Homo sapiens: one gene and its partner. The protein of the gene in region 2 interacts with the protein of the main gene of each other region in a pairwise test. Each region holds a gene or a part of one and is shown on either strand. Other genes may lie near its edges. The genes, in order: PFKFB1 and VWC2.

What was found.
Region 1: the proteins of VWC2 (region 2) and PFKFB1 interact in binary tests that used the Homo sapiens proteins (3 or more experiments, as listed by UniProt).

The regions. Positions count from the first base shown.
Region 1 is NC_000023.11:54,983,908-54,987,730, forward strand, and holds part of PFKFB1 (6-phosphofructo-2-kinase/fructose-2,6-bisphosphatase 1), read right to left. Parts: intron 1-3,823. UniProt on the Homo sapiens protein: Synthesis and degradation of fructose 2,6-bisphosphate.
Region 2 is NC_000007.14:49,801,075-49,804,897, reverse strand, and holds part of VWC2 (brorin precursor), read right to left. Parts: intron 2,188-3,823; coding exon 2,058-2,187; intron 1-2,057. UniProt on the Homo sapiens protein: BMP antagonist which may play a role in neural development. Promotes cell adhesion.

The DNA of each region.
Region 1 (3,823 bases), on a different chromosome or scaffold from region 2:
CTAATGATCAGTGATGTTGAGCATTTTTTCATATGCTTGTTGGCTGTATGTGTGTCTTCTTTTGAAAAGTGTCTGTTCATGTCCTTTGCCCACTTTTTAATAGGGTTGTTTTTTTCTTGTAAATTTGTTTAAGTTCAACTTGATAAGAAACTTCTATAAAGCAAACAAAAACTATCACCAACATTATACTTAAAAGTGAAAGACTAAATGCTTTCCCCCTAACATCAGGACTAATGTAAGGATTTCCACCTTCTCCACTCTTTTGACATAGTACTAGAAGTTCTAACCACTGCAATAAGGCAATAAAAGGAAATAAAAGGCATACGGTTTGGAAAATAATTTTTAAAAAATCCCTATTTGCAAATGTCATGATTGTCTACATAGAAATATCCCCCTAAACTACAGAAATTCCTCGAACTAACAAGTGAGTTCATCAAGGCTGCAAGATACAAGATCAACACACAAAGACAATCTTGAGACTTTCATTTCTGGCATGACAGCATGAGGAGCTCTAAAGACCCATTCTCTAATAAAACAAGCTCAGCTGGCAAAATTACAACACAACAACCTTTTAAAATCTCTGGAAATTGTCTTAATGGAATACAGTACATGAAGATATTTTTATTCAAGAAAATCTACTGAAATGTGGTAAGAACACAGTCTTTGATACATGTGCCATGCTACTGTTCCCGACCTTACTACTGTCCCCTCACTACTGGCTCCAAGCTTAGCTTGATAGAAGCTCCACTTAAGGTGTGTATAGCCAAGATGAAGCTCCCTTTCGTCTTGGAGAGAATGTCCCATCAATACTTTGGCATCTTACTGGAAGGAGCAGAGAGCTAGCATTTAGCATTCCCTTCAGCTCAGAATTGCAGAGGCTAAATTCCTGGCAAGTGTGGTTAAGAGGTTGGAGGATCCCTTCCTCCTCCCAGTTTTTACTCATAGAATGGAGGCTATATACCAGGTGCAATAGGCTAAGAATACTGAGGTCCTGATTACCCTCATTCCATCTTGCTCACAGGGTAGGTTCCACACCAGGATAGGCAAACTAAGACCAGAAGCTGCTGTCTCGCCCAGCACCCAGAACAGTGCTCAGACAGTATACCCATGGAGAGAAGAAATTCATAAGATGAGAGAGCTCTGAAACTCTCCCCCCAAAACTAACTTTATTTTTAACATAGTACAAAGAAGCTCAAGCCCAAGGATGTTCTCAAAAACTACAAGTTCACTTAACTAACAGCAACATAGGCCAGCTTGTTCATCAGAGAGAACAAGAGAGAGAGGGACAGGTAAGAAGAGCCCTTCTGGGGTATGAAGAAACCTCCAAGACTTACTTCACAAACTACTCCTGCTAGAGTTTAATTAGATAAGGCTGCTGGGCAATGCATGCTTCAGGACACTGCCAAACAAACAAACAAACAAAAAACAAAAACAAAATACAGCATTCAGCTAGTAATTAGTGGAGCCTAGAGTGTAATACCCCCATGTGGGCTGACAGCTTAATAGAGAGACTGGGAAAAAGTCAAAGAAAGCCCAAATTACCTGCAAGCCAAAAACTATGCACTCCAAGAAGCAACACTGAAGGGTTCACACTGCAGGGAAACATACTTTAAAAATAGCCTAGCCAAGTCACAAAGCAAAGAGTTATATAGAAATAAGGAAATGATACCAGAAGGTAATTCAAACCCACAGGAACAAATGAAAATAATAGAAAATAATAAATACATACATGTTCTCCTTAATTTTCTCAGCTTCCTTAAAACATAAAATTATATAAAATAATACTTATAATGATGTATTATTTAGTTTTTAGCATATACAGATATAATATATATATTATAATAGCTCAAAAAGGAAGGTGAAAGAGAGCTATATATGAGTAAAATTTTTATATCTCATTGAAATTAAATTAGTACAAATCTGAAGCACACTGATGTATGATGTATGTGAAAAGCCCTAGAACAACCACGAAGAATATACCTAAAAAATATATAATAAAAAATGATCAAATGAATTAAAAAGTTAAACTAGAATAATTCATTTAATGCAAAAGAAAGCAGTAAAGGAAGAATAGAGAGAAAAAGACATGAGCTCTATGGAAAAATAAAACTGCATATTTAAACCAACTATATCAATAATGATTTTAAATCAGAACAGATTAATCAACCCAATCAAAAGGTAGAGAATATCTAACTGAATACAAACAAACAAGATCCAACTGCATGCTGCCTACAGAAGATAGGTTTTAGACTGAAAGATACAAGGCAGGCCTGGTGGCTCACGCCTATAATCCGAGCACTTTGGGAAACCAAGGTGGGAGGATCCCTTGAGTCCAGAAGTTTGAGACCAGCCTGGGCAACATAGTGAGACTCCATCTCTATTCTAAAAAAGAAAGAAGAAAAAAGAGAAAGAAGCAAATAGATTAAAAGTAAAATAACGTAAGTAATACATCATGCAAACAACAACCACAAGAAATTTGGAGTGACCATACTAATATGAGACAAAATGGATGTTCAAAAACATTACTAGAGATATATAGGGACATTCAATAATGACAAAAGGGTCAATCCATAATGAATATATCACAAGTATAAACGTATATGCCTAAACAACAGAGCTGCCAAATACATGAAGCAAAACTGGCAGAATTGAAGGGAGAAATAGACAATCCACTGACAATAGTTGGAAACTTCAAGACCACTCTTTCAATAATGGATAGAACAACTACATAGAAGATCAACAACAGGGAAATAGAGGACTTCAACACAAAGTAGTAATAACAAACATCTGTAAAACACTCCATCTCCAAACAGCAGACTATACATTTTTCCAAAGTGTACATCAAACATGCTCCAAGAGAGACAATATTCTAGGCCATAAAAGAAGCTTCAATAAATTTGGAAGAATGGAAATCATATAAAGTATGTTCTCCAATCATAATGGAGTAAAATAAAAAATTAATAACAGAGAGAACTTTGGGAAATTCACAAATATGGGAACCTAAAGGAAACAGAAGAAGGATATAATAAGGATTAGAGGTGAAAATAATAAAACAGAGACTAGGAAAACATTAGAAAAAAATCAACAAAATCAAAAGTTGGTTATTTGAAAAAATTAATAAACTTGACAAACCTTTAGTGAGACTGACCAAGAAAAAAAAGAGAAAACTCAAATTAATAAATTCAGGAAAAAAAGAGGAGACATTACTACTGACTTTATGAAAATAAAAAGAATTATAAGGGAATATTATGAACAATCATAAACTGTATGCCAACACAATAAATGCCTTAGGTGAAATAGATAAATTATTAGAATGATACAAACTCTCAAAACTGACTAAAAAAGAAATGAAATCTAAATAGATCTATAACAAGGGGTTGAATAAGTAATGAAAAACCTTGCCAGAAAGAAAAGTCCAGGATTAGATGGTTTCACTGGTGAATTCTACAAACATTTAAAGAATAATACGATTCTTCAAAAGCTCTTTCAAAAAGTAGAAGAGGAAGAAGCACTTCCCAACTCATTCTATGAGGCCAGTATTTCCGTGCTACCAAAGTTAGGCACATATATTAGAAGAAAAGAAAATTATAGACCAATAGCTGTTGTGAATATGGATGTAAAAATCCCCACAAAACACTAGCAAACTGAACCCAGGAATGTATAAAAGGATTTATATGTATACATTATATATATGTATATATTATACTTATACTTTTTACATCACAATCAAGTTAGATTTATTATAGGAATGCAAGCTTGATTTAACCTTTGAAAATCAATTAATGCAACAGATCACATCAATAGAATTAAGGACAAAAAAACC
Region 2 (3,823 bases):
GGTGGTAGTCTCAATAGAATTTGTGCCATGTGTCTTATGGGAAAGAAAAAATAAGTAAATATATTGATGGTGTTGGGTTATGTATATAGAGAGATGGGGCAGGAGAGAACCAAAGACAGAGGGCCAAAGAAAGAGACAAAGCAAATACGGCAACGTGTTAGCAACAGGTGTAGCTAAAGGTATACAATTGTTCACTGGACAGTTATTTCAACTTTTCTGTAGGTTTGAAATTTCTCTAAAAGCAAGAAAAAAAAATCCAGGGGTTGAAATCCTGTCTTCTCACCTATTGTTAACACTCAAGCTAGGATTCCCGGCTATCTAATGCCAAGACTTAGTCTATAATCAAAATTTACAGGAAAAACATGGAATATCTTGGGTAGTTAAGACGCCAAATATTTAAGCAACCCATATTTAAGCCATTCACTAAACCCCTTGACGCAGTGAGAGTTGTTGTCGTCCAGTACCCCCGACATGCAGGGCACATGGCCTGAGCGCCAGCCCTCAGCTCTCCCAGCAGACCAGAGGCGCTCACTCGGGCTCCTCAGCGGGTGTGCTGAAAGCCACACCGAGACTCTGCCAGATTCTCCATCTGCCTCTCCTTCCCCAATCCCAGAGTCTTCTTCCCCCTTTATTAGTGTTAATTAGTGGTAATTAACACTAGTAGAGTAAACTGTATTGATTTCCCTCCATCTCACAGCTGGTGTCTCAACATCATTTTTTTTTTTAAAAAAAAAACACACTCCATGCTCAAAGTCCCCCTCGTTCTTGTCTAATGGAATCCTACCTCAGGATTTCTTCATAATTAACATGCACAAGAGACCAGCCAACCCTATATAAAGTACACTCTGTGACATCTTTGTTTTAACACTGTCCACTTGCCTTTGGAGGACTGGATGTACTATGCTACAATGATTATGACATTCCTAACACAGTCATCTTGTTCTTTCAGGTCTATCCTTCAACAGCAACATCATTCCCTCTTCCAATTATTTACCTCAAGAGTTTTACAATGTGTTGTAGTAAAATCTGGATATGTACAGGTACGTGGTCGAAGGTACCCATGGAACCTCATGGCCCGCACAATTTCGACTGTCATGACAGACTCTGGGAATTGTCTGAGCACCATGACCACCCCTGTGTCACCATCCACCAACACATGCCTGCCACATACCAAACCCATGCCACACAGCTATCAAGCCTCGGTCCAGCAACCCACATGAACGGCCGACAGCATCACAAGTTAGCTCTGAATGCTCTCAACCAGGGGTCCCCACAGCATACCCTGGGCAACATCCAGAAAGCCCAGTCGCTCCTGTCAGCGAGGCCACTCAGATCCTTGTAGACTCCGGCTGTGTCCCCTCTGTCCGCTGTTTCCCAAGCTCTGCTCAGCCTCTTGTCAAACTGCCCTCCGGGCCATAATTCTCAGGCCCAGCCAGCCTGGGTATGCACTCTTGTCAAAAACCGTCTTATAGTGTAATGCCCTCAGTACCTCAGGTACAGAGTAATCATCGTTTGTCAGGATGAGGAAACACTCTCCCATGACAAATTAGGATCAAGGACATCCTGCCACTTCATTTTCATAAAGTAAGCAAGGCTTCTGATCTACCAGGGGCTCTCACTGGGAATAGGAAGGGACTCTCTTCCTGCCTAATTTGCTTATGAAAAATATTCAATTATGTTCCAAGTTTCATTCACTTAGTAATGAAAAGTAAATGAGCCCAACCAGTGTGTTTAATGTGTCTTGGAAAGATAGAAACAGCTTTGCAAGAACAAACAAAGTTAAATTAAAATAAGTGACTCTCCTCAAAGGTGGAAATTGAATTTCTCCCCAAAGAACTTCTTAACATCCATAAAACATGGTGCTGATGCCAGTAAGAGAGAGAAGGCCTTGCTACAGAACCACTGTGGCTGAAAGATTACACACGTGTGTACGCATGTGTATTGATACATAGGATGAAACTCACGTATCCGTATGTGTCCCGTCTACCATGAAGCAGCACATGGGTTGTGCATCAGGGTGGGAGGTGCACCCCGTCACCAACGGGGATCTCACATACCATTTTTGCAGATGGGACAGCACTGATCAGGCTCGTACACAGGGTCCACACACTCCGTCTGGGGACACGCTGACACTGTGCATAGCACCTCACCGTTGGCTTCACAGCGACACCTCTCGCATGGAGACACCTGAAACACAAGCCCACAATCAGCACTTTAGCCTGCTGTCATGTTTATCCTACAGGGTCATATATATTTTTTTGAAATGGAGTCTCGCTCTGTCGCTCACACTGGAGTGCAGTGGTGCGATCTCGGCTCACCGCAACCTCTGTTTCCCGAGTTCAAGCGATTCTGCTGCCTCAGCCTCCTGAGTAGCTGGGATTACAGGCACCCACCACTATGCCTGGCTAATTTATGTGTTTTTTATAGAGATGGGGTTTAACCATGTTGGCCAGGCTGGTCTTGAACTCCTGACCTCAAGTGATCTGCCCGCCTCAGCCTCCCAAAGTGCTGGGATTACAGGAGTGAGCCTGGCCCTACAGGGTCATACTTTTCTTTCCCTAAACTTTCTGCGAAGACACCTAAGTGTTTTAGGAATGTTTAAAAAATGATCCAGCCCAGTGGTTTTCAGAGTGTGGACACAGGCATGCTGGGTGTTTGGTGAGTTGTCTTAGGTGCAAACGCACAGGACGGGCCACAGGGCTATGATGTTCCCTCTCCTGTCCAGCCAGAGCCACTGTTTAATTTGTGGTCTGCATATTGGGTTTCTTATTAAACTTTTTTTTGAAGAAATGTTTTTCATCTCTTTAAAAATTAAACAAATAAAAACTTGCTGCTGAGTTCTTGCCCATCCCCTCACCACGTAGGTGAATCCCTTGTCTATAACCCTGTCAAGTCACCACCCAGACTCACATGGAACACTCCCAGTGTTTCCAGTTACGAAGACACTGGAATAGGAAAGGGGAAAGGGGTGAAGGAGGAGAAACAGGGTGGCATCCAAGCGGGGCCAAGGGCCGGGAGCTCTATGAATATTCCCTCACTGAACTTTTACAGCAGCGCTAAAATACACGTACTCAAATTACTGACCCTTTGTACTAACAGGAAACTGAGACTCAGAGGTGTTAGGCAACATGCCATGGGCATGTCTGTCCTGTGAGCACAAGGTCCTCTTCCACTGAGGGCTCCTGACTGCGAGTCCATGGTGATTCCAATTTCCTCCAGGTCATTCTGCCCACTATCCAGCATCACGATGCTCTGTTAGAAACCAAGCTTCCATTTGCCTCTCTCTACTTTCCAGCCATGGGCTCATACTCTGCCTTCTTGAGCTATCCAAATCAAGCATACCAGCCATTCCCAAGAAAGCTGTACGTGGCTAACGGGACCCTCCATGGTCACTCACACAGGGCATGGTGATTTATCTCCTGGTTACCACCAATGGAGTGATTTTTGATCTGGCTGACCCAGGACAAAGCAGGAAGAGCATATGCAGACCCAGCCATCAGAAGCAAAACTGGGAAGTGGGGATACTCACTAGAAAGACCATGGAAATGGGGGACATGGAAATGGGTCGTATCAAGCTGAGTTCCTGCTTTGCCAGGGGCAGGGAGACCCCAGTTGAGTTGTGTGCCCCACGTCCATGATACAAATACCGCTTGTAAGGTAAAGAACATGAGTAACTCTCACAGATGCTCCCTTTGTCTATACAATGCAAACACTAAAAACTGAAATCTCCACTGAGTGGACTGGCTATTACGAGAAGCAAAAGCTCAACTGGAGTTTAACCATGTCTCTTTCTGAGGCACTAGACCACAGTCAACCTGCCTGG